4 separate regions of the Homo sapiens genome follow, and all the other regions are linked to region 1. Evidence: fine-mapped expression QTL. A gene starts in region 1. Each other region holds a variant in brackets. All regions are shown on one strand. Distances are between the middles of the regions.

Region 1 (5,151 bases):
TTGAACATTGTATCTTCCTTTTTTACTTATACTCCTCCAGCTATCCCCTTACCTCCTCAAGAAGCCCTTAAAACCAAAACACACAACTGACAGAATGGGTGAAGTCACAAGCACATACATATGTAGACTGAAGAGACAATTTAATTTTGGCTGGGTCGCGTTCTAGGCAGGGCAGCAAAAACTTCTGACTAAATAGACAAACTCAACGACCTTTAGTTTTCCTCCATGTGGCTCCATTAGCTCAGCAGAGGTGAATCGTAGACGAGAAAGTATATGCTGCAGGCACTGTGAGGCAAGGCATGCTGCCTAAGTTTCCTCATCTATAAAATGGGGATAATGCCTTCAGGACAGAAAAGCATGCTGAGATAATATAAGAAAAACATCTGGCTTGATGTTCAGCTTCCTCTCCCTGCCAAGCTATTGCTATGACTACATGGAATGTGCCATTTGCATTAAGAAAGATGCACAAGAGCGGACTGTATGTAAACACGCAGTCAGCACATACCTGGGTTCTGCCTGGTCTTTCTGGATGTTATTTAGAACTGGAAACAGGTTCTTAACCACTGATAATGCCTTTTCTACCTGAAAAGGATGAGGCATACGTATTGCAGGAATTCAAGGATGACCCAACATCCAGCCAAGCAGTCTCTTTGACCGAGGCATGGTTGACACAGCAGAATTACTAATTTTTAATAAGTCCCCACTGCTGAATCCAATGGCCTCTATCATTCTAATTAGGTACTCTTATTAGAGGATAAGGCTGGAGAGATTGACCTTGATTTACCTTTTTTCCAACCAAATGTGGAAAACCCTTTAGCACGGTGATTGTTAACCAGGGTCCCACATTAGAATCACCTGGGGGGGGGGCTTTTGAGACTCCAGACGCCTAACCCACACCCCAAACCCAACCAATTTAATCAGGATATCTGGGGGTTGGGGGATCAGGGTCCCATATTTTTCGAAGTCCCCAGTGTGATCCAAGATGAAGCCAAGGTTGAGACCTGCTGTCTAGGATCATCCCTCTTCACCTCAAGTAACTTCTGCTGCAAGGCAAACTAGGAAAGCCAACCTAGAGCATTTCACAACCACAGCTTCTGACAGCAGTCACAACAGGACCCCGAATACTGGAACATGACAGGAGCCTGCACCAGGGTCCACACCGAGGGTCCAACAGAGCTTATTAGTAGGGGATTACCCAGCTCCCCATGGGAGAACCATTTTCTCAAACAGTTTGCACTTCAATACAAATAAGTTCAACAATCTTAGGAGATGCCACCAGTGCCTAAATTGGCCTGACCATCAGGAAATTTTTTCCTTCTTTAAGAGACAAACCTCTTGGGAAGGAAAGTCAGTGTGTATGTGGGCACCCCACCGGCCCCCACCCCCAGCCAATCTCTAGAGAAGCAGACAGAAGCATCAATTCCCGTGCGGCTTGGAAAGCACCCCGCGGGCTCCCCGCTGCGCCGGCTCACGCCCACTGCACCTGCCGGCGCTCCGCCGCACCTGCCGTGCGGCGCCCTCCCCTCCTACCTTCCAGCAGCTCGTCCAGGCTGGTGACCTTCCGGCTGCCGTCGATGGTGTAGATAGTGCGGACACCCTGGGGCAGGTTCACGTTGTCCGACAGGGAGCGGGTGAGCTCTATGAGGAGCGCATCGAAGGACCGGAAGCGGTCGCTGGAGATGGCAAACACCAGGCCCTTGAAGTAGCGGTCCCCGTTCCGGTAGAAGCGCGCCTTCTTGGCCTTCTTCTCCGAGCTGAGGGCCTGCAGGGTCCGCGTGCGGTAGAAGCTGCAGTGGGCACTGTGCGCCGGACTGGGGATGAGCCCGTTCCCCTTGGGGCCCGAGCTGCTGCTGCCCCCGGAGGAGCTGGGGGCCCCTCTCCGCGACCCCGGCCGCGGCCTTTTGTCCCGTTCCTCAAAGTGCTCCAGCTCGATACTCCTGGTGCTGGCCATCGCGGCTGCTCCGAGGGCGTCCGCAAAAAGACGTTCCGGGCCGACTAAGGGTGCGAGCGCCGGTGCAGGGACGTCTGACTGCGAGGGCCCTTAACGCGCCGGGACACCTGGCTCTGGCATCCCGCCCTCTCCGCGCAGGTGGGGCCGAGGAGCCGCGGAGGAGCCGACCCGCCCGCGCCCTCAGCTAAAAGTGTCCGCAGCGCCGAGCTGCCCAGGTCATTGTCCAGTGCGACTTGCTCCGTGCCTCCCGCCTGCCGGGGAGCCCCACGCCCCCGCAAGCGCCTCCTCCACCCGGCCACGCCTCACAAGTCCCGCTCGGGAGCCGACCGGGAGAGGCAAAGTTGGGCCGCCCGAGGCTCGCGCTGGGCCCGCGGGCGCCCACAAAGCTCGGGCGTCTGCCGAGCGCTCCCGGGAGCGCCGAGGGGAGGAAGGAAGGAAGGGTGGGGCGGGGCGCGGAGCGTGGGAGAGGCCCCCGGGGGAGTCGCGCGGGCCCAGGCCCGGGGTGCAGCGCCGCCGCCTCGGCCGCGCCCGGATCCCGCCCGCCGGGCAGCGCGCGCCGTTCGGGGCTGAGAGGGCCGTGTCTGGCCCCTTCCTTCCCTGGAGCGCGGCCCTAGCGGGAAATAATGCAGCCCGCCTCCCACGCAGCGGTCAGGCCCGGCCCACTGGCAAGCATCCGCGCTCTGGCCTCCCTCCGCCGCCGACAGGCTGTCAGCGCTGGAGGAGGCTTCCCGGCCCCGGGGATGCCAAACCGCGGAGAAGGGGAGGAGGGGGCGGAGGAGGGGGCGGAGGAGGGGGCCGAGCGCCGGCGCGGGAGGAGCAGCTCCTGCGGGTCCCGGGCAGCCCCGCCCGCCTGACGGCTCCTGCCCGGCGCCGCGCGTTAATGGGCGCAGCCGCGACGCGCGCTCCTCCGCCTGGGAAACGTAACCGCGCAGGCCAAAAACTACAAAGGAAGGAGATTCAAGGGCAGGGAGCACATCCCCAGCCAGCATCCCAGTGAGGACCCCAGGCCAAACTACCGCAGAAATCCGAAGCCCAGCATTGACTTGGGGCACACCATTCATTTTTTTTAAAAAAGATTTGTTGCTTTATTAGAAAATCCTTTGAGAAAACAGCCTCCACTGTTTCCATTGCAGATTCGCTAATATGGTACGTTCAGTAACTTTGAATGAATGATGAGAAGTTATTGGGTGGTAGAGGGGGTTATGTAATCAACGAATATTTATCGAGAGCGTACCATGTGTCAGGCATTGTTTCTGTCACTGGGATGCCCTAACAAAGGAAAGAGAGACTCTGCACCCACTCCCCCCGCCCCGCATATTTAATGTTGTCAATTAAAGCTTCTTACCTAAGAGGCCTATCATTTGTGAGCACCCATCATAGTGGAAATCTTAATGCCGTAGTGTCTATTCAACAATAAAAACATCTTTTCCAAGACTTAAGAGAAATACTAGTTACTTGCATTTTGTTATTAGGAAAAATAAAGCTCAAATATGTTTGATCCCAATTTGGCACGTGAAACCTTAGAACATTCAACACCTGGTTTTCTGAGCAGCCCTAGACAGCAATCCAAACTGACCTTTCAGGAAGAAAGGCATAGTTGCTTTTTTTCGGGTTGAACTGAGTCCTGGAAGAGCATGAATAAAAGAAGGTAGAAGCACATGCAACGGTCTAGCATCTGTGAAGTTGGTGCGCCCCACCAAACACACGCACACACACGCATACACACCCTTCATGGCAGCTCCAGAAAGGTCTCCTGCTCGGTGCACAATACTACTCCTAAGGCAGTTCTGGGCATACACCTGGGCATACCTAACTTCCTGCGGGGTTGGGGCATGCTAGGAAGTCAGAGCTGATCTGAGGCTTCAATGTAGTTTTTCTAGAGGAAAATCCTGCAGCATCATTAGGTCCACCACCTTAAAAGGCCTCAACCTAGATCAGTTAAATCAGAATTTCTGGAGACGGGCTTCTCCAACAGTATTTTTTTAAAAGTACCCCTAAGGTATATCCAGAGTTTCCAACCACAGGCTGTAACACCAGGAATCAAATAAATCAGTGCTTCTTCTCAAACTTTAATATATTTACATGTCATAGGGGAATCTCGTTAAAATGCAGATTGCTATTCTGTAGCTCTGGGGTGGAGTTTGAGATTCTGCATTTCTGATGAGCCCCTGGGTAATGCCAATGCTGCTGGTCTTGGTACAAGACTTTGAGAAACAAGAAACTAAATTGCAAATTTATTGAGATAAGTTTCCATCTAAGTACCAGTAACTCCACAGAGCCCATCAACTTGCCTTAAGATGGCCATGTTCATTTGTATCACTGTTAGTATTTCTTAGGGGGAAAAAGACTTTGTAAACTATTGCTGTAGAAACAAATTATCCTAAACTTAATGATTTACAACAATAAACATGCATAATCTCAGCATTTTTGGCAGATCGGAAATCTGGGAGCAGTTTACCTCAAAGCCTCATGTGATTGCTGTCAAGATGTTGACAGGGGTCACAGCCATCTAAAGGCTTGACTGGGTCAAGAAGATCCATTTCCAAGACAGCCCATTCACATGAATGGTAAGGAGGCCTCAGTTCCTTGTCATGAGTACCTTTCCATAGAGTTGCTTAAGTGTCACCATGACTTGTCGGTTGGCTTCCTCTAGAGCAGGGGTGTCCAATCTTTTGGCTTCCCTGGGGCACATTGGAAGAAGAATTGTCTTGGGCCACACAGGAAATACACTAACATTAATGATGGCTGATGAGCTAAAAAAAAAAAAAAAATCACAAAATCTCATAATATTTTAAGAAAGTTTACGAATTTGCATTGGGCTGCATTCATAACTGTCCTGGGCTGTGTACAGTCCACAGGCCATGGGTTGGACAAGCTTGCTCTAGAGAAAGCATCCAAGAGAGCACAAGGTGGAAGCCACAATGTGTGTTATGATATAGCCTTGGAAGTCATACACTGTTATTCCCACAATATCCTGTAGGTTACACAAGGCAGCCCTGTTTGATGTGGGAGGAGACTACACTAGGGTGTGACTAGGAGTCAGCAATTATTGGGGTCATCTTGCAGACTGGTACCACGGGTTTCAATCTTTCAATCTTTAGAACACTAACATGCACTTCCTCACTCAAAGATCCTTGATAAGAGATTTGGCCCTTCTTAAATAGTGAGTACAATTATACAATATGCCAGTATTTTTAACT
Region 2 (5,151 bases), 46 kb before region 1:
CACAGGGGAATACCAGAGAACCCAAAATTGAAGCAAACGGTACAAAGCAACTAGCCAGAACTCTTCAAAAAGATCATGAGAGACAAAGACAGACAAAGGAACTGTTACAAATTAGAGGCTATTAAGGAGATATGACAAGTAAATCCATGTGGGATCCTGGATTGGATGCTGTACTAAAACAAAGACATTTATGAGACAACTGGCAAAATTCAAATAAGGTCTGTAGATCAGTTAATAGCACCAACTCTGTTGATTTCCTGTTTTAAATAACTACACTATGTTTACAGAAGATATCAGCATTACGGGAGGCTGGATGGAGGGCATATATAATCTCTGTGTACAATTTGTGCAATTTTTGTAAGTCTAAAGTTATTTCAAAATAAAAGCCAAAATATATTTTTTAAAAATTGTAAAGCCCTAAAAAAAGACCTAAAATACATATTACCATCTCCTGAGATATTCTTCCAAATTAAAGCACCAAATTAAAACCTATTACTCCACGGCCTGGAATATCCTTAACAAATCTGTCACCTCCTCTGTGAAGCATTTTTGATGCCTCTACAAAGAGTTAGCTTCCCTTCTTTGACCACAGTCTCTTGCATCACTGCTGGCTATTAATAGACTCACCCTGACTTAAAATTATTATTAGTTCTTGCATTTGTCTTTTCTACTACAATAAGAGTTCCTCAAAATACAGAGACCTTGTCTTACATATCTTTGTTCCTCATGTGTCTCGTAGAGTGCCTACCATAGAATAGGCACAAAATAATAGCTGAATGAATTAATTATTCATTAGCCAAAAAACATTTTCTGTCGTATCTTAGCCCGCTGCTCACAAACACTGTAAGAATGGCTTCTTAGAGGGGCAACTGGCAAAATTCAAAGGTCTGAAGATCAGTTGACTCCTTTGTGAGTCCACTCTCATAGTATCCAAACATGTTGAGACTGCCTAAAATACTGACTTTAATTTATTGCATAACTGTAACAATAAAGGAAATTTTCAGAAAGAAAAGTCATTCACAATCCTATCACTAAGACAAATTATTTTCTTTTTATATTATTTTATAGTATTGTCTACATGCATAACTATTTTTATTGTGGGTTTTTTGTGGTTTTTTTTTGAGACAAAATTTCACTCTGTTGCCCAGGCTGGAGTGTAGTGGCTCGATCTCAGCTCACTGCAACCTCCGCCTCCCGGGTTCAAGTGAGTCTTCTGCCTCAGCCTCCCACGTAGCTGGGATTACAGGTGCATGCCACCACGCCCAGCTAATTTTTTGTATTTTTAGTAGAGATGGGGTTTCACCACGTTGGCCAGGCTGGTCTTGAACTCCTGACTTCAAGTGATCCACCTGCTTCAGCCTCCCAGAGTGCTCGGACTACAAGAGTGAGCCACCGCGCCTGGCCACACATGCATAACTATTTTTAGATAGTCATTTTTAGATAGTTATAAACATAGGGTAGACAATTTTGAATTCAGTTTTCCCACTTACCAAACATTGGCTCAAAATAGTATATAAAACTTTGGAAATGTTTTACTTCTATATCATATTCTTTGAATATCATTGATGGTTGTCACTCTTCATCATTTGAGGGTGAATACAATAAAAGTTCTGGAAAAAGTTTAAGAAGCTAGTCAGAGCCAAGTCTATTGAATAAATAATTATACTACATAACATATTCTGGAAAATAGGAATAATTATAGAGTGGTAAAACTGATTTTTGAATCTTGGAAATGAGCCTTGAGAGCAAATAAAAAAATGTCCAGAGATTCATAAGATAAATGCATCCTGATTATATCCAACATGACAAATCAAAACCAAAGGACAAAAGTTCTTTGAATGTCTCTGTGGCATTCCTTATGTGGGAATACAACCATATACCTACCACAAGATGATCTTGAGAACGACATGACAACATGCATAGTCTGAAACAATACTGCTAGTAAAAACATTGGTGTCTTTCTCATCTCTAATGGCATTTGTCACTGTACCTGTGTGAAACTTGTCTCATAATGGAATTGTGTGTCAGGGGAAATAAATATATTTAAATCAAATTTTAATTTGTATTTTCTGGACTCCAATGCATGCAACCAGCTCCTTGGGGGCACAAATCATACTGACATTTTTCAAGTCTTAAAAGCTCAAGAAGTAATTAAGACATTGATTGGTACTGCCTAGGTGGGAATGCTCTGCAAGAGAAAATCACTTTTAACTTCCAGAAAAACTTTTAAACTTTCATCTTCTGTCTACATGTAAAATTTGGGCTACTGTATTAAGCTGAGAGGCATCTAAGATGTTAAAATTTGGATTAAGTTACTTAAGTGGGCTTTTATAAGTTTCCATTTATGCAACTTTTGGTTTTTGTAAAAACTTTTTAATTTGCATTTTCAAAATGGCATGTGACAGCCATAATATTTTACCACAAAAATATACAATGTAAAAGACTAGGTGTTTAATAAACTTAATGATTCAAAAATGCAACCATGTAACTAACGTCAGCTTCAGTATGCACTGATGCACAGATACTTAAATATCTTCCATAACTCATTCTTAAAATGGCATTTTAATGACTTAGAATGTGGGCAAAC[T/CT]AAAAGAACAATATTTTCAAATATAATCAAATGTCTTTATGTTCACATTATGAGAAGCCTGCCATAAACCACTACAAAACAAAAAAAGAAAATTTTAAATAAAATCTTCTTGAAAGTCTTAAGAGCCTGAAATGCATAAAGAAAAGCGAAATGCTCCTTCTGGGTGGGCGTTGCTTCATCGCTAACAGTCCTCAGGCTCAGAGAATTAAACTTCTGTGGAGGCAAATGTCTAATGACTACAGAGCTTTCCAACACTGTGCTGAGAGTCTGGCAGCTGCATCACACTACAATTAAATGTCCTAAAAATACACAGGGAGAATATTCATGAAAGTTTGTCTTGCTCTTTCAAGTGTGGCGCTCTTCTTTATTTAAAACCAAAAGTATGAGGTTAATTTTTTTTTTTTTGAGACAGGCTGGAGTGCAGTGGTGTGATCTTGGCTGACTGCAACTTCTGCTTCCCAGGCTCAAACGATCCTCCCACCTCAGCCACCCGAGTAGCTGGGACTACAAGCATGTGCTACCACACCCGGCTACTTTTTAATTTTTTGTAGAGATGAGGTCTCACTAATTGCCCAAGCTGGTCTTGAACTCCTGGGCTCAAGCACTCTTCCCGCCCTGGCCTCCCGAAGTGCTGGGATTACAGGCATGAGCCACCACACCCAGTCCAACGTTAATTTTTAAATCTGAAAAACTGCAGAGGGTTACTGAAAAGGCAAACACAGGGATATCTCTGCACTTCACTTTACTGCACTTCACAGACACTGAGCTTTTTACGAATGGAAGTTTCGTGGCAACCCTGTATGAGGCAAGTTCGCTGGCATCATTTTTCCAACGGCCTGTGCTCGCTTCACGTCTGTCATATTTTGATAATTTTCACAATATTTCAGACTGCTTTATTATTATTATAGCCATTAGGGTCATCTGTGATATTTTTTGATGTTACTACTGTAATCATTTTGGTGCGCCAGAAACTGCGCTCATGTAAGACAGCAAACCTAACCTATAAATGTTTGTGTTCTGATTTTTCCACCAACCAGCTGCTCCCTCATCTCTCTCCCTCTCCTTGGGCCTCCCTATTTCCTGAGATGTTACAACAATACTGAAACTAGGCTAACTAATAACACTACAATGGCCTCTAAGTGTTCAAGTGAAAGGAAGAGTCAATCTCTCACTTTAAATCAGAAGCTAGAAATGACCAAGCTTAGTAAAGAAAACATGTCAAAAACCAAGACAGGCCAAAAGCTAGGCTTCTTCCCCCAAACAGTTGAGTTATGAAGGCAAAAGAAAAGCTCTTGGAAATTAAAATTGCTACTTTAGTTATCACATGAATTAAAAGGCATATTGCTGATGTGGAGAATGTTTGGTTGGAAGAGAAGATCAATCCAGCTACAACATTCCCTTGAGCCAAAGCCTAATCCAAAGCAAGGTCCTAATTCTGTTCAATTCTATGAAGGCTGAGAGTGGTGACAAAGCTCTTACCTGATGCGGGCACAGAAGAAATGCTGGAAGCTAGCACAAGTTGGTTCATGAGGTTTAAGGAAAGAAGCCCTTGCTATGACATAAAAGTGTGAGGTGAAGCAGCGAGTACTGATGAAAAAGCTGCAGCAAGTTATCCAGAAGATTCAGCTAAGACAACTGATGAAGGTGTATACATTAAACAACCAATTTTTTAATTATACTTTAAGCTCTGGGATACATGTGCAGAATGTGCAGGTTTGTTACATAGGTATACACGTGCTATGGTGGTTTGCTGCACCTATCAACCCGTCATCCACATTAGGTGTTTCTCCTAATGCTCTCCCTCCCCTAGCCCCCCACCCACTGACAGGCCCTGGTGTGTGATGTTCCCCTCCCTGTGTCCATGTGTTCTTATCGTTCAACTCCCACTTACAAGGGAGAACATGTGGTGTTTAGTTTTCTCTTCCTGTGTTAGTTTGCTGAGAATGATGGTTTCCAGCTTCATCCATGTCCTTGCAAAGGACATGAACTCATACTTTTTTATGGCTGCATAGTATTCCATGGTGTATATGTGCATTTGCTTTATCCAGTCTATCATTGACGGGCATATGGACTGGTTCCAAGTCTTTGCTATTGTGAATAGTGCTGCAATAAACATAGGTGTGCACGTGTCTTTATAGTAGAATGATTTATAATCCTTTGGGTATATACCCAGTAATAGCATATATGCTCTATTGTTGAAATGACAACAAAGGATTTAGAATATTCCATAAACTTAGTTGATAAAGCAGCAGCAGGGCTCGGGAGGAATGACAAATTTTGAAAGAAGTTCTACTGTGGCTAAAATGCTATCAAATAGAGTAAAAGAAGCCAATGCTCATTTACCATTCCCCAAATCCTAAGGCCTTTAAGAATTATAGTAAATCTACTCTACCTGTGCTCTATAAATGGAACAACAAAGTCTGGATGACAGTGCATCTATTTACAGCATGGTTTACTGAATATTTTAAGTACCACTGTTGAGACCTACTGGAAAAAAAATTCATTTCAAAATATTACTGCTCTTTGACAATGCACCTGGTTATCTAAGAGCTCTGATGCAGAGG
Region 3 (5,151 bases), 86 kb before region 1:
CTTTAACTAACTGATGGGGTTCTGATGAGTACAATTTATCTCCTGAATATCAAAGAGAATTACCTCGACCCCACCCCAGTAAGTGCCTCCCAATGAGAATAATGCACCCAGGCGGGCCCAGTGAACTACTCTTTAATCAGTGGCTATTTTACATGATCATAGTTATCATTAGGCAGTGTCCCGCCCACCACTTATCCTTAAGACAAGGAAGATCTCTGAAAAGGAGGCAAGGCTCCCTGCCATTCAGAAGGATCTGAAAAAAGTCAGAAGTGCTGCTTTTTGAGCGTTGTCTCCTAATCAGAAAAGGACCAGCAATCAGCCCAGCAAGCACCCACCTCTTCATGACAGTGCACAAAGATTGCATGAACAAAAAGGACTTAATCACTGCTTGGAGTGCCTTGCTCTAATTACAAACTCAGATAAATTATGCATTAACATTTGCATCTTAGGTAGTCATTTGTCACACAAAGAAAACAGGAAAATGTGTACTCATCACACAAGGCAGCTCCCAGAACTTCACCCCTTCAAAGATAAAACAACAAGGATATACTCGCAATTTCACAAGTAATGAAGAATGCTGGGGACAAGTAGAATATCGGTTTTTGTTTTTTGTACTTTTTTTTGAGACAGGGTCTCACTCTGTCACTCAGGCTGGAGTGCAGTGTCACAATCATAGCTCACCACAGCCTTCATCTCCCAGGCTCAAGTGATCCTCCTAACTCAGCCTTCCAAGTAGCTAGGACCACAGGTGCATGCCACCACACCTGGCTAATTTTTTTAAAAATTTTATGTAGAGATGGGGTCCCGCTATGTTGCTCAGGCTTGTCTTGAACTCCTGCGCTCAGGTAATCCTCCCACCTCAGCCTCCCAAAGTGCTGGGATTACAGGTGTGAGCTACCATTCCTGGCCGTGTTAGATTTTTAAATAACTTCTGTGTTGGTATTAATATCTAAATTACCTCCATTAAATGATTAGAATCCAAACTCGGACACCTGGTGTCTTCTTAGTTTTGTGTGACTACAATAGAACACCACAGTCTGGGTAGTTTATAAAGAAAAGAAATTTATTTCTCACGGTTCTGGAAGCTGGGAAGTCCAAGGGCTTGGCACTGGTGTCTACAGATGGTCATCCCACAGTTGAAGGGGGAAGGTGGAAGTGAACACACAAGACAGAGGCACCAGGCGCCAGACTCACTTTATAACAACTCACTCTCATAACTCACCTACTCCCATAACAATGACAGTCCATTCATGAGGGCTCTGCCCTCATTATCCAATCAGATCTTATTAGGCTCTACCTTTCAACACTGTTGCACTGGGGATTAAGTTTCCAACACATGAACTTTTGGGGGACACATTCAAACCACAGCATCAGGTGAAACAATTAAAATGAACCTAGGTAACACTGTAAATGTAACAAGGTAGCCCTTCCATCAGTTCTAAGCAGAGGACTCACAAACCTAACAATCTAAGGTTTAAGGTTTCTGCTTACTTTTTTATAGGCCAATTTATGTTCTCTTTGAAATAGGTTCTCTCCTCCAGCGATATTCACTATTCCAACCATAAAATGTTTATTGTGTATTCAAGCTAATATGCAGCATGCAGCTGCTTATGGCAACAACTGTGGCTAATATGCTGCACATTTAAAAGCAATCTTTAGCAATTGGAGCAAATTTTCCAATCTAACCAACTTCATGTGGGAAGACAAATCAAAAAAAAAACTCAACCCTGGGCAACCCAATCAGCAGTTATTGTATATAAAATTACCACCCAATTCTTAGCAAACACGCATGGCATTTCTAACAGCTGCCAGATCTATAGAACAGAAACAGTGCTGGTGTACTCAAAGGCAGACAAAGATCAGAAGAAACCACAGAATTAAACACTCCACAGCTCAATGACCACTTTAATTTAATCACAACACCCATAGTCCTCAGCAGTTGTTAAAAGTGTTTTTAAACAAGGAAGTTCCTCTCCCGAAGGTATATTCCATCATTACAGGCATATGGAATGTTCATGCCCTCAGGGAATCTTCTCTAAAGATTATGAATGAATTTGTCTCAGGATGGTTAAACCCATTTATTCACTACAAAATCAGAGATTACTCATGTAAACCAAAACAAGTGTTGTCATAAATTGGTGTGCTCAAAATCTTTAAAAGGAGAACAGTAAGGGTCTTACAGTGTGACAAGAATCAAGATAATTTTTGTTTCACCCTATACAATGATATTGCAACTCCAAATGAATTTTTAGTACTCCAGGAGATATGTTATGGTTAATCTGTACTAATAAAATATAACTGGACTTAATTTTTTTTTTGAGACAGTGTCTCACTCTGTTGCCCAGGCTGGAGTGCAGTGGCACAATCTCAGCTCACTGCAACCTCCACCTCCTG[T/C]GTTCAAGCAATTCTCCTGCCTCAGCCTCCCAAGTAGCTGGGACTACAGGTGTGCACCACCACACCCAGCTAATTTTTATATTTTTAGTAGAGATGGGGTTTCATCATGTTGGCCAGGCTGGTCTCGAACTCTTGACCTCAGGTGATCCACCCACCTCGGCCTCCCAAAGTGCTGGGATTACAGGTGTGAGCCACCACATCCGACCCTTAAAATATTTTTAAACAATATATGTACTTAGCTAATTCATTTATCTACAAATTAACAGCTGTTAATCTATAGACTATCTGGAATTGTTGCAATTTGCTGATGAGCTATAGGCTTTTAATTTGGGAGTAGGGTATGGGGGTAGGGGGGTAAGTAAGTAAACTGAAAATATTCCTTAGAGCAGTGGCTGCACAGTTCAAAAATGCTGATGCCACAGGCCCAACCCAGACCACTTAATCAGACTCTGGGGCATGGGGCCAGGCATCTGTATTTCATCAGTAACAGCCAAAGTCTCTCCAAGGTCATCCTAATTAGCAGCTGGGGTTAAAATCAACTGTCTTAAAGAGACAGACATTATACTCTAACTTCCAAGGAAAACTGAGGGTCAACTTTATATTGCTGGCCTAAAAACCATAAGGAAATGTCAGAAATAAAATGGGCTGTGTTAGGCTGGTGCAGTGGCTTATGCCTATAATTCCAGCACTTTCAGAGGCCAAGGCAGGAGGATGGGCCAGGAGTTTGAGACCAGCCTGGTCAACATAGTGAGATCACAGCTCTACAAAACAAAAAGCAAAACAGATGTTGCAAAGGGTTGGTACTGTCCTTAACCATGGAAAGTAGAAAATAATTATAAATAAAATAACTAACTTCCTAAAATTGGTAAGAACTTTGGTGACTCTTCATCTCAATCATAATCATTCATTTTCTTGAGGTCCAAATGACAATGCAAGACAGCAGCTTTTAGAAATTGAAAAATGTGATACAAATTAAGTGCCTAAAACATATAATCTTGAGCATGCCTGCACAATATAGTAACTGCTTAATAACTAATGTTTACTGAGTTCTTACTGAGTTCTAAAGCCAGAGAGAATATTTTCTAGATAGTATCTTATTTAATTCAGACAACTGAGCTCTATAATTTTCTTCATAGTATAGACAAGGAAATGGGCTCAGAGAGATTAAGTTATATAATGAAATCACACACCATGGGGTGGCGGTTGGGCAAGGATCCTGGGCTTTGAACTCCTCTATAATGTAGTAGTTATTGAAGAAAAAAGGGAATGAATGATATTTAAATGGCTGGTTGGTTTATTTATTTATTTATTTATTTATTTATTTTGAGACGGAGTCTCACTCTGTCACCCAGGCTGGAGTGCAGTGGCAGAGGCTCAGCTCACTACAACCTCTGCCTCCCAGGTCCAAGCGATTCTCCTGCCTTAGCCCCCCAAGTGGCTGGAACTATAGGTGCCTGCCACCACGCCCAGTGAATTTTTGTATTTTTGGTAGAGACAGGGTTTCACCATGTTGGCCAGGCTGGTCTCAAACTCCTGACCTCAGGAGATCTGCCTGTCTCAGCCTCCCAAAGTGCTGGAATTACAGGCGTGAGCCACCGAGCCCAGCCTTAAATGACTGGTTTCAAAAGATAGGACTCCATTTGCTTAGGTACCGCCCTGCAGAATGATTAACCAACTGTCGTTTTGCCAATTTTGGAAGAAAGAAAGATGTGTTGCGCAGTCACAGTCAATTCTCAGTACCAACAATTCGTTAGACAATTCTAATGTCATATTAAATAGTAAGCTAAATGATAAGGCCAGGAGGCAGAATAAGTGAGTGAAAAGAGAAGATCTGTCAAATGTGGGTCTGAGTTATTGTCCTCTATGTTGCAGCTACTTCTAGGTTAAACTTATCAATGTCCCAGGAAGCAAAGAGTACGTACAGCAAGGAAGGCCTTTAAAATAGAAGACTTAGGCTGGGCACAGTGCTCATGCCTAAAATCCCAGCACTTTGGGAGGCTGAGGCAGGAGGATCAGTTGAGTCTAGGAGTTTGAGACCAGCCTGGGCCACAGAGTGAGAGTGCATCTCTATAAAATAAAAAAATTTAAAAATTAAAAAAAATAGAAGACTTAGAAAAAGCTCAGAAACATAATTAAGACATACATTTAATTTGAAATTACATTCAATAAATTAATTTAAAATATCTAGATATTTATTAGGTTAACTAAAATTAACATTCTGATCTTTCACAACATGGGATGGAAATTTTATGAGGAAAGTTATACAAATATATATGGAAGATAATACTACTTAATAAAGTTGGCCCTAAATCCCAATACTTGAAGAGCAGAGGGTCTAAAGTTTCTCCTCTGTCCCTAATAACTCAACTTTAATGTATTAAAAATAAATCAGGCTGGATGCAGTGGCTCATGCCTGTAATCACAGCACTTTGAGAGGCCGAGGTTGGAGGACTGCTTGAGGCCAGGAGTTCAAGACCAGCCTGGGCAACATAGCAAGATCCCATCTCTACAAAAAATGCAAAAAATTAGCCAGGCATGGTGGCGCATGCCTATGGTGCCAGCTATTTGGGAGGCTGAGGTGGGAGGATCATCTGAGCCCAGGAGGTTGAGGCTGCAGTGAGCCATGTTTGTACAACTGCACTCCAGCCTGGGCAACAGGGCAAGACCCTGTTTCAAAATAAGTAAATAAATCAAAACCAATAAACAGACGGTGGTGACATGAAGAAAGTCACAATAAGGTCAGAAATGTTCATGACT
Region 4 (5,151 bases), 170 kb before region 1:
ACTTGAGGTCAGGAGTTTGAGACCAGCCTGGGCAACACAGAGACTCCATCTCCACAAAGAATTTAAAAATTAGCCGGGCAAGGTGGCGTGCACCTGTAGTCCTAGCTACTTGGAGGCTGAGGCAGGAGGATGGCTTGAGCTCAGGAGTTTGAGGATACAGTGAGCTAGGATCACACCACCGCACTCCAGTCTGGGCAACAGAGCAAGATCCTGTCTCAATAAACAAAACTCCCCAAATCCCTACAATTTCCAAGGACAATTTCAACTACCTGGAGAAAGGGTAACTGTGGAAAACTCCACTAAAAGATGCTCCCACCTACATGGGAAGCAGAGAGCCAGCATACAGGTTTTTCCTACCACAAAATGTCTCCTGGGTACAAGAAAACAATCCCCCCGTTATTTCTCCTTTTCTCTTCCTGTCAGAAGCACAGGGGCGTGTGTGGCAGAAGGCAGGCTGGCAGTGCGGTTAGTACATACCATGGCCTTGGACCTAGCCAGAGGGAAGCAATGCAGGCGGCGGGAGAGGCAGAAGGCAGGAGAGAAGCAGGGACAGAAACTAGACTTACTTTCAACAGAAGCAACACGAGTGAAACAGTTTTGTCTATCTTAAATTAAGGCAATAAACCCAAATCCTTCCCCAACTTCCCCCTGAAACAAGGCATAATCCCCCAGCGAAGAAGGCAATGCCCTTGAATCCGTCCCTTCTCAAGTCTGCACCGCAGGCGCCGAGTGACGGCGGCTTCTCGGCATTCCCTTCCCACCACAAGATGGTCTCTCCTGGTCTCTGCAACTGGGGCGAGCCCCCCGGGGTACATGGGAGGCCGTCCTGCATGCACCCTGCTCTGTCCTTTCTTACGCATGCTAAGGACAAGTCCAAGAAAATGGGAACTGTAATCCCACACCTCAGCCCTGCCTGAAACCAAGGCCTCACCCATTAAATTATCTTCTCTTATCCCAAAGGCTGGCTGAGATTACACTTACTGATACAAACTCATCTTTGGAAATGCAGCTGGAGAAAGAACAAAAGCCTTCACGAAGGCACCATCTTAAGCTGCTCTTTCCGAAAAGCCACTTTTCACCTAAGTGGGAAACAGCATCGGTAGGAGAACTATGGGACTCCTCCCGTGCTCTCACCAGCTGTTGGTCTGGAAAGGCAGGCAGTGTGGTAAGCTGAGAAGTTTGAAAATAAAGTTTTCCAGGGGCCTGCTTGGCTGGCTGGAAAGGATGTGAGTAGGTACAAAAGACCCACACCAGTAAGCAGCTGAGAGCCGGACGGCGGCATCAGAAACTGAGACAAGCATGCAGGCGTGAGAGGGGCTGAGGATGGGGCGCGCTGGTCGGACGCAGCGTGGTGAATACCAGGATTCTGCTTCAGGCTCTCCCACTGTCTCAGCGGGGTAAAGAAGGAAACTCTGAGGTGCCTCTCAAACTGTCAAATCAAACTGTCAAACAAAATGCAGATAACACCATCAACTTTACTTTTTTTTCACCTTTATGGACCAATTTCTAGCCCATCATTTTCTCACTGAAGTCTCAGGCCCCAGCTCTGGGGATGAGAACACTAGGGTGACAGCAGATGGGAAGGTCCTGTCTGTAAGTTATCTGATGATTCAACCTCCAGACGGTTGACACTATTTCCACTATCATTTGTATCTGCAGAAAACCAGGTTGGCCCCACAGTCTCAGTTATGAGGACCTATGAGTACCAGGGAGAGTCATTTTGAGGTTATTTTTAATGTAAAAACACTTAAAACTGTTCCGAAGACAGGACACACAGTGACGTGAGGAGGATGAGGAGGATGAGGAGGATGAGGAGGACGAGGAGGATGAGGAGGACGAGGAGGACAATACAGCAGCATCGCAAGTTCCCCCACACAACCATGCCCCAGACCAGGTCCTGCGCCAGGGGAGGATCAGCAGCAGGCCTTCCCCTCCCACTTTTTGGGACAGCCCAAAAGTCACAGGCTGGTGTTTTGGCCATCGAGAATGGGTGCCACCAGAGGCAAGACTGATTGAATTTCCCTGTAGGTACTGAATGGGATCATGACATCAGCAGTTCCTCTGAGCTAACAGCCTGCAGAGTTGTGTAGGTAACATGGGGTTAGAGGGGACACCCTGCCAACATGCGCAAAATGACAACTGAACACACATAAACATACAACATTTACAATCACCATCAGAGCTGCAAACAATAACGGGTTGTTTGTTCACACAAACACCCTGTCAGAGCCCAGGGGTTTGTCTTTTGAGTCCTGAACTCCTCATCAGCAAATGGAAAATGGTATTTGTAAACCACACGACATAGGTTCTGTCTGAGGGGGTCTAAGCGTCATTATCTAGGACAGAGCCTGTAGAACAGCTAATCATTCCAGAATGTCAGCTGAGAGCCAGCCATAAAGAGGCCGGGCACAGGCCTATGGCCACTGATTCCTATCTGGGCCCCTGAGTCAAAAAGTGACCCCAGCAATGACTCCCTTCACAGTCTCCGAGCAAACTCTCCTAAGCCCTGGGCACAGGGCGGTTAAAGGTTCTTCCTCTCAGAAGACTTAACATGGTTATTAAATTTTGATCCTAACCAATCTCTCTTCTTAAGGTTTTTTCATGACACGTTGAGTATGCCAATTTTTAATGTTTTATTTTTCTAAATTTTCCAAGAAGCTGCCTTACAACGCAGTGCACAGCAAGACTGTGTACCACTGAGCCCATCCATCAATGCTAGCTCTCGCAAGGGAATCGCTGGAAACATTCTCATGCTGTTGGCTCAATCAAGATGGTTCTTTTCAAAGTGTCTAAGCTGTAATTCTTTGACAACTCTGACTTTCTCAGGCTTTCAGCAAAACACTGCTAAAATTCAAGGGAAACCACAACTCAAAAGGCCTTCTCACTGCTTTGGCACAGAGCGCCCCCAAAGTCCTGCAAGCCATCAAAAGACTCAGCTTGCAAACCCAGGCTCTGTCTGGAGAGGGAGAGAGGGAGAGAGGGAGAGCACACTTTCTGGCAGGGGAGCAGCTGGGGAGTTGCAAGGACACACAGAGGGTGGCCACATAAACGCAGCCGGGGGACAGAAGAGAATGACGGCCCAGTGGGTGCTGAGAACCTGGTGGACGCTCAATCCATATAACAGAGTGCTGCATGCT[C/T]GTGGGGTGTGTGGGGTGTGTGGGGAATGTGGGGTGTGTTCGGGTGTGGGGTGTGTGGGGGTGTTGGGGGTGTGTGGGGGTACCTGGTGTATGCTCAATGCATATAACAGAGTGCTGCACGCTCGTGGGGGCGGGGGGTGTGGGGTGTGTGGAGGTATGTGGGGTGTGTTCGGGTGTGGGGTGTGTAGGCTGTGTGGGCTATGTGGGGGTGTGGGGTGTGTGGGTGTGTATGTGGGGGGTGGGGGTGTGGGGGGTGTGGGGGGTGTGGGTGTGGGGTATGTGGGGGTTATGTGGGGTGTGTTGGGGTGTGGGGTGTGTAGAGTGGGGGGTGTAGGGGATGTGTGGTGCGGGGGATGTGGGTTGTGTGGGGGTGTGGGGGGTGTGAGGTGTGTGGGGATGTGTGGTGTGGAGGGTGTGCGGGATGTGTGGTGTGGGGGATGGGAGTGTGTGGGGGTATGTGGGGGTGTGTGGTGTGGGGGGTGTGAGGGAATGTGTGGTGTGGGGGGTGTGGGGGATGTGTGGGGTGTGGGGGATGTGTGGGGGTGTGGGGGATGTGTGGGGTGTGGGGGATGTGGGTGGTGTGGGGGATTTGGGGGGTGTGGGGGATGTGGGGGGTGTGGGGGATGTGTGGGGGGTGTGGGGGATATGTGTGGTGTGGGGGATGTGTGGTGTGGGGGGTGTGTGGGGGTGTTGGGGGGTGTGAGGGATGTGTGGTGTGGGGGATGTGTGGTGTGGGGGGTGTGAGGGATGTGTGGTGTGGGGGATGTGTGGTGTGGGGGGTGTGAGGGATGTGTGGTGTGGGGGATGTGTGGTGTGGGGGGTGTGAGGGATGTGTGGTGTGGGGGTGTGGAGGATTTGTGGTGTGTGGGGATGTGGGGGGTGTGGGGGGTGTGGGGAGTGTGGGGGATGTTGGGGGTGTGGGGATGTGGGTTATGTGTGTGGCTTCCTTATAGCTTCTATCTAGACCCTGCGTCTTCCTAGGTAAGGCTCTCAGACAACCATGTACCATGAGAATATGCCACTGTTTCCCTTCTAGTTGGGTAGGAAACAAGGAGGACCTTCCCAGAGGATGAGAGGCCTGTCCCAAGTACGAGTGACGGAGCTGTGGAGGTGGCCCATCCTTAGCTGTCAGGACTCAGTGGGGTCACGGGGGGCCCAGATGTGAAACTCAGACGCCCATCACCTTGGCAGGTCTGATTCGAAAGCTGCTGCAGCCAACTCCAGCTCTGGGAAAGGCCACTCCACCCCTGTTCCCTGCTCCTGGGAGTGTGTGGGGAGAACCAAGGTCCCTGCCTGGGTGGCTGGCTGGCTTCTACCTGCTCACGGTGAGCTGGCCTTCCCGCCCAGGGTTGCATTGGCTCAGGCCTGGACAGCTGCTGCGGGTGTGCTGCCCTCACCTCTGGTTCAATGTTTTTTCCTTTTGATTCATTTACTCTCATGTCACTTTTCATTTTAATTTGTTGTGTTTATGTATTTAGGAGAGTTGCCTTAAGAAACATTTTGGAAGAAGAAAAGGCTGAAAAAAATAAGGCCATCGTTGTCACTGACATCTCATAAAATGTTACCAACCCTGAAAAATGAATATATATTTTTTTCCTTGATTATGTACCTTTAAAAGCCCCAAACTGTGTTTTATAAAACACTGATTTTTTAAAACTGAAATATGTTTAGCTTTGGCTGTTTCTTATCCCAAGTCTCAAAGAATAATTCACATCTCTAATAATCTATTTCTGAGGCCTTGGGGTAGGCAGGGAGTTAATTCCTAACACAACACACCCCTCCAGGGCTTGGGAGTCTCTCTAGATGAGAAGGCAGAGACAAGAGTGGAAGCAGCTGCCCAGAGGGCCCAGCCAGGAGCTCCTTGACGCCTGGACCCCTCACACCAGGCCTGCTGGTCCCTACACAAGCCCCTCCACACAGTGCCCAAAGCCTGGGAGTTGCCGAATGAGTGCCCTCCACATGCCAAGCCAATCTTCATATGAAATAGGACTACGGAAGGCACCAACTTCCATGT

Alleles and levels. Positions count from the first base shown, and alleles are read on the strand shown. Sizes are in standard deviations (SD) of each study's normalised expression. Not every link is listed here.
For the expression in tibial nerve of the gene that starts at base 2,534 in region 1, allele T in region 4 goes with a lower level than allele C (small effect, 0.17 SD a copy in GTEx).

What was found. PIP is the estimated chance that this variant, and not a neighbour inherited with it, causes the effect. A credible set is the group of variants that fine-mapping cannot tell apart.
Region 2: its variant is the best candidate, but not a certain one, in a credible set for the expression of DCLK2 in whole blood (INTERVAL, PIP 0.52).
Region 3: its variant is the best candidate, but not a certain one, in a credible set for the expression of DCLK2 in left ventricle (GTEx, PIP 0.81).
Region 4: its variant is the best candidate, but not a certain one, in a credible set for the expression of DCLK2 in tibial nerve (GTEx, PIP 0.65).

Annotation. Positions count from the first base shown.
Region 1 is chr4:150,075,828-150,080,978 of GRCh38, reverse strand. DCLK2 (doublecortin like kinase 2) reads right to left here and starts at 2,534. Exons shown (of 16, transcript NM_001040260.4): 1 at 1,531-2,534. The coding sequence starts at 1,951.
Region 2 is chr4:150,121,861-150,127,011 of GRCh38, reverse strand. The region is part of intron 2 of DCLK2 (doublecortin like kinase 2); the gene reads right to left. Among named protein-coding and RNA genes, the nearest start is that of DCLK2, 46 kb to the right of the region's middle. The variant T/CT (reference allele first, on the strand shown) is at 2,588.
Region 3 is chr4:150,161,966-150,167,116 of GRCh38, reverse strand. The region is part of intron 2 of DCLK2 (doublecortin like kinase 2); the gene reads right to left. Among named protein-coding and RNA genes, the nearest start is that of DCLK2, 86 kb to the right of the region's middle. The variant T/C (reference allele first, on the strand shown) is at 2,395.
Region 4 is chr4:150,249,765-150,254,915 of GRCh38, reverse strand. All of the region lies in intron 15 of DCLK2 (doublecortin like kinase 2), which reads right to left. Among named protein-coding and RNA genes, the nearest start is that of DCLK2, 170 kb to the right of the region's middle. The variant C/T (reference allele first, on the strand shown) is at 3,138.